2 separate regions of the Homo sapiens genome follow, and region 2 is linked to region 1. Evidence: fine-mapped expression QTL. Tissue or cell type: whole blood. Region 1 holds a variant in brackets; the other region holds the start of a gene. All regions are shown on one strand. Distances are from middle to middle.

The links. PIP is the estimated chance that this variant, and not a neighbour inherited with it, causes the effect.
Region 2: it holds the start of THBS1, and the variant in region 1 is fine-mapped to the expression of THBS1 in whole blood (INTERVAL, PIP above 0.99).

The regions. Positions count from the first base shown.
Region 1 is chr15:39,266,711-39,271,860 of GRCh38, forward strand. All of the region lies in intron 1 of LOC105370777 (a long non-coding RNA gene), which reads right to left. Among named protein-coding and RNA genes, the nearest start is that of LINC02915, 19 kb to the left of the region's middle. The variant G/A (reference allele first, on the strand shown) is at 2,810.
Region 2 is chr15:39,578,505-39,583,654 of GRCh38, forward strand. THBS1 (thrombospondin 1) reads left to right here and starts at 2,575. Exons shown (of 22, transcript NM_003246.4): 1 at 2,575-2,724; 2 at 3,325-3,420; 3 at 3,689-4,248; 4 at 5,113-5,150. The coding sequence starts at 3,354. LOC124903470 reads left to right here and starts at 1,303. Exons shown (of 1, transcript XM_047433405.1): 1 at 1,303-2,490. The coding sequence starts at 1,814. The coding sequence ends at 2,248. RefSeq lists an enhancer at 1,666-2,403 and silencers at 1,826-2,055, 2,066-2,115.

The DNA.
Region 1 (5,150 bases):
GTCTAAATTACATAGAACCATGATGGAATAATCAACGAATGTGACCTAGAGTTTAAATTTTGGGATTATGTTCAGATGGCATAGCTACAATAGCAGAAAAGCATTCTGGAATTGCTACACCACAATATAAATCAATGAATTGCTTCCTTATCAAGAAAGTCTTGTTACAAAACAAAAATGTTAGCAGGACTAAAAGGTGTATTTAGTGCAATTGTAAATTACCTACAAGCTAATGCACTAAATTTGATATTACTCTTTTTATTTGTAATGATATGGAAGCTGCTTATACACAACTACTGGGATATGAGTTATCAAGGAGAAAGGTTTTATCAGTAATATATGAACTATTCAACAACCCTATTGTGTTCCAGACAAGATAAGAAACAAGCCCCAACATTCCAAAGATATGAATTAGACAGTCTGTCATGCTTATTTCTTTGGTAACGTTGATCTTTTTTAAAGATCTTAATACTTCCATGCAAATAAAGAATGTGACATGTTTTCAATGGCAGATAAGATTAAAGTGCAAAAAGCTAGAAGCCTGGACAAACAGAGTTTCTAAAGAGTGCTGAAAGTCCCGTAAGTTAATAATAAATAATAATGAAGTAGGTGATGATCTTGAAATTATATACCTGCCAGGATATTTCCCTATACCTTAGAAATTTTGTAAACAGTTTTAAATTTAACTTTCCATTATAAGAATATTTTACATCTGCCAGGATATTGCCCTATATCTTAGAAATTCTGTAGAAAGTTTTAAATGCAACTTTCCATCATAAGAATATTTTACATCTGCCAGGATATTGCCCTATACCTTAGAAATTTTGTAGAAAGTTTTAAATTTAACTTTTCATCATAAGAATATTTTACAAATAGGAAATTCATAAATCCAAAATCCCTTTCTTTCATTAAAAGTAAAGTTAATTTTAACTTTAAAGGATAAATTGTTCAAATATGCTACTGGTGAAGGATCAAAGGTGAGTTTTGCAAATACTGAATCACTTGCTTCATTTCTACAAAAAGTTAAAAATGAATATCCTGAGTTTACTGAAGTTACTTTGGTATTTATTCTCTTTCATATCAAGGTAACTCTGTGAGACTGTACTCAAGCTACTCTAAATGTTACTGAACGAAACAGAAACAGGAAATGAGTGGTGTCATTGCCACTCCAGCTATGCTACAACAACCGACAAGCGAGAAGCATGCTTATACATTGCATTGGTTCAACCATTGTGGTAGACAGTGTGGCGATTCCTCGAAGATCTAGAACTAGAAATACCATTTGACCCAACCATCCCATTACTGGGTATATACCCAAAGGATTATAAATCATACTGCTATAAAGACACATGCACACGTATGTTTATTGCGCCACTATTCACAATAGCAAAGACTTGGAACCAACCCAAATGTCCATCAGTGATAGACTGGATTAAGAAAATGTGGCACATATACACCATGGAATACTATGCAGTCATAAAAAATGATGAGTTCACGTGCTTTGTAGGGACATGGATGAAGCTGGAAACCATCATTCTCAGCAAACTATCGCAAGGACAAAAAACCAAACGCCGCATGTTCTCACTCATAGGTGGGAAATGAACAACGAGAACACCTGGACACAGGAAGGGGAACATGACACACCGGGGCCTGTCACTGGGTGAGGGGAAGGGGGAGGGATAGCATTAGGAGATATACCTAATGCCAATGACGAGTTAATGGGTACAGCACACCAACATGGCACATGTATACATAGGTAACAAACCTGCACATTGTGCACATGTACCCTAGAACTTAAAGTATAATTTTAAAAAAAGAACCTTAAATATTGATATACATTGTGTTCATTAAAAGTATGTCTATGGGTATTTAACATGATATATTCCTATTTTACTCATAGTTTCCTTAGTTTATAATTGCAGAGAGAAAAAGGGCTATTAGTACGAAAGTGATCCTCTATAGTTACATTATATTTGTATACATCAAATGCACCATGTTTTTAAATATTTTCTTTTTCCTATGCTTATTCTGATCATGTTTGTTAAAATGAATTTTGTGTCTATAAAATCTAATAATAAAATCTGCCTTCTATGTCATATGTCTTCTATCCCTTTTTTGTAGGAATTAGTGCATATTGCATTTTACAAAAGCACAGATCTGGGATGGATTGGAAAGCAACTAACAAACTGCTCCTTCTCCACAGATGATCTGAGAAGCACATACATTATTTATCTGCCTTTAGATCATTTCTAAGCTATCCTAAAATCAGGATTCTACTTTTCCCAAATTACCCCTGCCCCACCCTACCTTGACTCCTTGCCTACCTGAGGAACATCATCCATCAAATCAAGATGAAGTAAATGCAGGCTGTTCTTGTGACTCTTCAAGGTCAAAGAGCCAAATGCTCACAGAGGCTGGGCTGGGAGAGCACATGGGTGCAGGAACAAGCAGCGTGCAGGGGTACCTCTGTTTCAGATCAACTGGCCCAAGCAGGAGCATGGCCTGGGTTGCCAGATCCCTCACAGTTTTTCAAGAGAAACCAGAAACCCAGATTTTTACAGGGAACTACAGTCATTTAAAAATGTGAAGAAGTAATTCAGATTTTTACAAGCCACAAGGCCAGCTAAAGAAAATGCCTGTGTGGGCTAAAATTGGCCCAGGAATCCCACCTGGGGACTGCTGGGGCTCCACATGCTACTGATAGAAAAAGTGAGATCAGCAAATGCAAAGGATTTCTTTCAAGCACAGCCTGCAGGTGGATTTTGGCAGTTTCCTATCAGCGTTTTTCCATCTATGGAAAACAGCTGCT[G/A]GTGTGAGCCAATGCTTCAGGAGCACTCCTCCTGCCTCTGTCTAGCCTGAGGCAACCCCACAATCAGTCTCAGATACCAACATGAGCATGAAACATACTCCACAAAGGAGCTGTTCAACAAGGGGTCCCATGATTTCAGGGCCACTAGTCCAGAAAAGGATATTCAGTCACGGTGCAAAAGAAGAGGGTATATGAGGACCTCTTTGAAGGGAGCTGAGAGTGAGTATCCTGATCCCACCAGCAGGAAGGAGGTGAGGTGCCACCCTTTCCTTCAATCCTAGTTGGGAGAGGGATTTCCCATGGGAAACATTAGAAAATTTCATATATGTTTCTTCCGCTGGGGGCTGTGGAGGACTGGTGCTTGGTTCACACATGAGACAGCTGAGCTGCCTGATAGATTTGGCCATGCTGAGATTAGCCTGTACTCCCAGTTGGGCAGGGCAAGGGATGCACCAGTGTTTCCTGCTAGTGTGCCCATCATCATTCTCAGAAACAGGAGGAGACCAATGTACATTCATTGTCCAGGAGGAGCATGTGACTTTGCCGCCTGATGTTTACGAAAGAGTTTACAGTGCTGTATAAGTGCTGAATGGCATTGTTCTTCCACAGGGCTTTCATGGACAAAATGAAAGATAAGAATTCCCTCTCTGCCTTCGAGGGCCCTTCCCAGCCCCTTCTTCTTTTGTCTGTCTCATCCACAAACTAAAAAGTATCTGCCCTGAGATCCTGAGATGGCCTTTCCCTTTAAGCCTCATTATTATTCACCTTCTATGGAAAGAACTCACTTTAGGCTGAATCCCCTACAAGCTATGAGAGTGTCCAGTCAAACCCAGCACAGTGTAGCATTGATATCATTATCTAGTGGTGGTTTCATTTAAAGAAATGTTTCATTCACTGGAGAGATGGGGAGGTCTGGGGTGGTGGGTGGGGGTATGATTTGCATTCACTGTGGGGCTCTTAGTACCTAAAACAAGTGGCTTGTGTTTCTGTGCTGGACTCTGCTTTTTCTCCCCACCCCACCCAGTAGCTCCCAATTCTCTATCCACAAGATCTTTAAAACCCAATGCAAGTCAAACAATAGAACCCTCAATTTAGAAACTGTAACTCTGGATTCAGGGAGCTAAGCCAACATTCAAACCCTCCCTGACTTTTCACAGCACTTACTGCTTCTGTCATGGGTTTGGCACTTGATTATATTCAATTTAGCACATAATTATATCCCTACTCTCTCATGTTTTTCTTTCATTGCTTGTAAGTGTTCAGTTTATTTGTCCCAATCATACAGTAAGCCCCTGGACAGCAGAGACCACTTTTCACCCTTCACCAGAGATCCATATACTTAGCAGTGTTGGGCCCAGAGCAGATAGGCAATAAACACCAGCTGAGCTGAACAGAGTGGAACAAGCCACCAGCTCCACCTTCCAACTTGCCATTGATGGGGAGAAAAGGCAAAACCACCTGAGCATTCAGCTTGCCGCTGCCTTTCCCTGCTGGAAAGTCATAAGCTTCTTCCCCGGGCTTCTTATGGGAAAGGCATGATCTTCTTGAGACTTCAGCGTAGGCACATCCTCGGGGAGCACTTTCTAATGGGAAGTGTGAGTCTGGGTGGATAGTGCCCATGACTCATTGTAAAGTCTATGTGGGAGCCTGGGCGGCTATAGTCTCATATGAAAAGTATTTCTGCTCTATCCTGCTCCTTCCCACGCTCAACCTTCCTGAGCCACCCTGTTGCCATAAGCATCTGTACAGTGCCGCAAGCCTCACTACTAAGTGTCATCCTTGGACCATCAGCATCACCAGAGGGCCTATTAGAAAGGCAGGATGTTGGGTGACATCTCAGTCCTAATGAGTTAAGACCTTTTTAACAAGACCTCCAGGTGTGTCCTATGCATGGTAAAATTTGAGAAGCCCTTCCCTGAAGAGGACCTTGTCAGGCATTCTCCCTGAGGAGACAGGTTTTTTGAGCTGTCTCCAGAATAATCTGGAGAGCTGTCCTGGATATAAATGATGCTTTCTTCCTCGGGGGGAGGAGAAGCTCCACAAAGGAGCAACAACACAAATTGTCTCCAACCCACAGATAGGCACAGAGCTCAAAAGAAATTAAGTCAAGCCAAATGGCAAGCAAGATGCTGTTAGTATGAGTGGTAATAGATAGCTCCCTATGTCCTGTTCTGTCATTCTGTCTGTTGCTGTACATGCTCCAGGACATCCTGCCCTTAGCAAAACATGCTGGAATGGGTTTACAGTGGGTCCGAGGACATATTCTAGTGAAAGACCAAAGCCTTGCCAGTCCTCTAGGCACAGTCGTTATCTCCCTGGACAAATGTGTACAAGTCACTAT
Region 2 (5,150 bases), 310 kb after region 1:
TGCCATATGCCTTACAATTTTCAGTAACTAATCCTCAAGGATGACAACTTGGCAAAAAAGAGAACTGGACCAGCTCCCTGAAAGGTCCATCACTTCGGCCCATGTTAATTGATTGCCTTAAAATCACAGTGCTTCCAGGTTGTAGAGACACACTCAAAATGGACTATTGCCCTCACATTAAAGGGGATAGGTTTTCTTTTCCCTTTTCCCATCCCTGCTTCTCTCAAAGCTGCACAGAGGTATATGAGGTTTGGGGAATATTTGCAGCACATGTTGGCTGGCAAGAATGTGGGTGAATTCCTGTTAAGGGGCGCAGACACTCCCTCTTCTATGACCTTTCCTTTCCACCCAGAACAACTGAAGTATCATGATAAGAGGAAGGGCTTTGTGTTTGAGATAAGCAGCTCCTATACCTGTCAGCTTTCTCTAATAAGAAAGCTCTTTCCTGCCACCGTATAGGTCACCTTCTTATTGGTAAAGCATGATGAAGTTTGGAAACTGTTGTCCTTGTTTTGTTGAAAGAAGCCAAGTTCCAAGAAATCTGCAGAGGCATTCCTACAATCCCTCAGCCATGGCAGCATGAATCCTGAAGGGGCAGTGAGTGCTGGTTTCTACTCTGTCTGCACAGCTAAGCCTAGGGGAGATAATCTTTTCATACAAGATGCATTCTGCTTTTGTGGGCCTCTTGCAGCCCTCAAGCCCCCATCTGATTTGTACACAATGATCCAGTGGGCCAGAGGAGCCCAGAGCCATGAGCGGCCCATCCCTCCAAGAACTATTTCTGACTGTCCAGTATCATGGAGCAAGTGGAAAGAAGAAAAAAAAAACCCAATTACTTTTCGAAGAGCAAGATGAATGCTGTAGAAGGAGAAGGAAGGGGAGGGAGATGGATGGGTGCCGATTCCAGAATCTTCAGATCTGCTTGGATGAATCATTACCTATGATTTGCGGGACAAGAATCTGATTTTATTCATCAACCAGTAGAAACTTTTCTTTCTGCCTCCCAACATCTGAAATCCAACAAACATGTGCCTTAGGAACATACCGGTCATCTTTTAGAGGCATTTTATATACATATTGAGTAACTAGAAAACACTCTTTCCGTAATACACACACACACACACACACACACACACCATCTTGTCATACAACACTCCCACGCAAGAAAAGCGAAACTGCTGTTTGATGAATGTAAACACTTGGCTGTTTGCAGCAGTCGGGAGTCCTGCCAGGTTTAAGTGCTAAGATGGGAGGTGAACCCCAGGGGTTTCCCCCTGCCCGTGCTGAGATCCTTATTTGGTCAAGCTTCTACCTATGCCCTGGCCTCGGAGCGAGCCCGATAGCGCTGGATCACAGCAGAGGGAGCGAGGCGGCTGACGTCCCATCCCGAAGAGATGAATGGAATTCCAGGAAGCTAGAGTCATGCTGGCTTGGGACAGTGGCTTGGAGACCAGACTTCAATGACAGAAGCACTAGGCAGCGGCACTCATGGCAATGTGTGCACCCACAGAAATGTAACCCACACCTCGGGTTCAGGAGCCGAAAAATGAAAAGAACGTTTAGGGAGGAAAAAGGGAAATACAATAATAGGCAGAGAGTAATTTATTACTCTATGGGTCTGCTCTGTAAATAGCTGAAGACTCTGGAGCCAGATGGTTCTGCAAATTCTCCAAACAGGAGTCACGTTAAGAAGCACGAGTGGGCACAAAAACTGTTTTTCAAGACACAATTTCAATTTGGCTTGTGGAAACTGGATACGAGTAAGTTTCCTTAAAATTCGAGTAGAAAGCAGCTGTCCTCCCCGGGCCCCTTGATGAGAATACGCACACCGCCCCCAAGCGGCCGGCCGAGGGAGCGCCGCGGCAGCGGGAGAGGCGTCTCTGTGGGCCCCCTGGCAGCCGCGGCAGGAAAGGGCCCGAAGGCAGCGAAGGCGAACGCGGCGCACCAACCTGCCGGCCCCGCCGACGCCGCGCTCACCTCCCTCCGGGGCGGGCGTGGGGCCAGCTCAGGACAGGCGCTCGGGGGACGCGTGTCCTCACCCCACGGGGACGGTGGAGGAGAGTCAGCGAGGGCCCGAGGGGCAGGTACTTTAACGAATGGCTCTCTTGGTGTCCCCTGCGCCCCGTCGGCCCATTTTTCTTTTTACAAAACGGGCCCAGTCTCTAGTATCCACCTCTCGCCATCAACCAGGCATTCCGGGAGATCAGCTCGCCCGAAAGCCCCTGCGCCACCCCGCGGGCCCTCCTAGGTGGTCTCCCCAGCCCCGTCCCTTTTCGGGATGCTTGCTGATCACCCCGAGCCCGCGTGGCGCAAGAGTACGAGCGCCGAGCCCGTGCGCGCCAAGGCTGCGTGGGCGGGCACCGACTTTTCTGAGAAGTTCTAGTGCTCCCAAGCCCCGACCCCCGCCCCCTTCACTTTCTAGCTGGAAAGTTGCGCGCCAGGCAGCGGGGGGCGGAGAGAGGAGCCCAGACTGGCCCCCACCTCCCGCTTCCTGCCCGGCCGCCGCCCATTGGCCGGAGGAATCCCCAGGAATGCGAGCGCCCCTTTAAAAGCGCGCGGCTCCTCCGCCTTGCCAGCCGCTGCGCCCGAGCTGGCCTGCGAGTTCAGGGCTCCTGTCGCTCTCCAGGAGCAACCTCTACTCCGGACGCACAGGCATTCCCCGCGCCCCTCCAGCCCTCGCCGCCCTCGCCACCGCTCCCGGCCGCCGCGCTCCGGTACACACAGGTAAGTCGCCCCCGGCGGCCGCCGAGGACCAAAGCTGCCCGGGACATCCACCTGGAGCGCTGAGGCTTCAGTCCCTCTGGTGGACCCCGGAACCTACACTCTCCCCGCTCGCCTACCCCAGCCCGCTCCTCTCAGCCGCTGGAGGACTCTTCAGGGCAAGGCTCCAGAGCCATCCTCTCCAGCCTTGAGGTTCACAAACCAACTCATCAGGACACCCCAAGATTTCCTTACTCTCTGAAGTCCTCCTTAAGCCTTTGTATCAGCACTCCAGGGAAGAGTCTGTACTTCCCCTGCCCTCCCTGCAACCCCAAACTACAGTTCCTGATCTTGCTCACCTTCGACTTCCCAAAAGCCCCCAAATTGTTGGTCTTGCGCCCCCCACACTTTAAAACCAGCATCTCTTTCCTCCACCTCTCTCTCTCTCTCTCTCTCTCTCTCTCATGCTCTCTGGAAAGTAATCCTGTTGTCCTTCATTTCAGCAAACGCGGGGTCAAAGAGGGATGGTCCCGGCCCTGTCCCCATGCCCAGCCCCGTTTCTGCGCACCGTCCCTCCCTGCCTAGCTGATCTCTGACCCTCGGCTCTTGTGCTTCCTGCTACAGGATCCCTGCTGGGCACCAACAGCTCCACCATGGGGCTGGCCTGGGGACTAGGCGTCCTGTTCCTGATGCATGTGTGTGGCACCAACCGCATTCCAGGTGAGTTTGTGTGGCACCTTTAGGGGAAGGAGGGACAAGGAAGAGGTGCTGGCTATCCCAGGTGTGCCCCCTCACGTGCTGTCCTCTCCCTCTTGAGCCTGACTGGACATCAGGACGCAGCTTCACTCTGATCCTGGTATTTATTCACCTCTTTCAGTGGTTGCCAGGAGTTTTCACCCCAACCCTTTGTCTCCACCCCTAAGGACTCAGCCCCCTACTGCTGGTCCCAGCCTAGAAAGCTCACTTTGTGTTCTCTCCTGTCTAACAGAGTCTGGCGGAGACAACAGCGTGTTTGACATCTTTGAACTCACCGGGGCCGCCCGCAAGGGGTCTGGGCGCCGACTGGTGAAGGGCCCCGACCCTTCCAGCCCAGCTTTCCGCATCGAGGATGCCAACCTGATCCCCCCTGTGCCTGATGACAAGTTCCAAGACCTGGTGGATGCTGTGCGGGCAGAAAAGGGTTTCCTCCTTCTGGCATCCCTGAGGCAGATGAAGAAGACCCGGGGCACGCTGCTGGCCCTGGAGCGGAAAGACCACTCTGGCCAGGTCTTCAGCGTGGTGTCCAATGGCAAGGCGGGCACCCTGGACCTCAGCCTGACCGTCCAAGGAAAGCAGCACGTGGTGTCTGTGGAAGAAGCTCTCCTGGCAACCGGCCAGTGGAAGAGCATCACCCTGTTTGTGCAGGAAGACAGGGCCCAGCTGTACATCGACTGTGAAAAGATGGAGAATGCTGAGTTGGACGTCCCCATCCAAAGCGTCTTCACCAGAGACCTGGCCAGCATCGCCAGACTCCGCATCGCAAAGGGGGGCGTCAATGACAATTTCCAGGTGAGGCTTCTTCTCTGAGCCCTGCTCCGTGGGATCATCTGCTAGACAGGTGACCTGCCAGGAGGGCTACAGGAAATCCTGTCTGTAAACTAACGCAGCAGTTCTCAGATTTTAGGCAGCATGAGCATCACCTGGAGGGCTTGTGAAAGCTCACCCTGCTGCACCCCAGCCCCAGAGTCTGGGATTCTGTAAAACTGCAACTCTAACAAGTACCAGGTGATGCTGATGCCGGTGGTCTGGGAAGCACACTTTGAAAACTACTCAAGGAAACAAGAAATGGTTTTCCTTTAGCAGTCAGCCTGTTCAAGCCTTAGATACTCCTTAGGCTCTTAAGAAAAGAGCTTATTTCAAATGCATTCCCCCAATTTTAATCTTGTTTGAAATGGATACTTTCTATGGGCAGAATCAGTACCACTTTGCTATTGGATTCCTCATGGGGATGCAGCTGGTCTCACATAAAAGGTTAAAATAGCAGTTAGTTGTTGCTGTTACAGCTTCATCTGTGCCTTAACTTCTAGATCTTTGCAACGGTGGCTTTGAACTCCCACATTTAACTCTTTGACACTGGAAAGTGTCATTATATCCTCTAGGCTTAGGATCAGATTCCATTTCCTGTGTACCCAAGTAGGCTGATAACTGAATTCTTTGTAAAATACTCAAGACTTGGCAGAAGTCACAATTAAGATTTTGAAGTTGTTTGGCGATTAATGTTGCTGTGTTATTTTGACATAGTGATCTTAAGACAGCTCTTTGAAGCTTTTAGAACATCTATTGTATGCTTTTCCTAGCATACAGACAGTCTCCCCCAACCCCATCCCCACCCCGCTCTGCATTCTACAAGTAATGTGTGTCCTCTGCCCACAGGGGGTGCTGCAGAATGTGAGGTTTGTCTTTGGAACCAC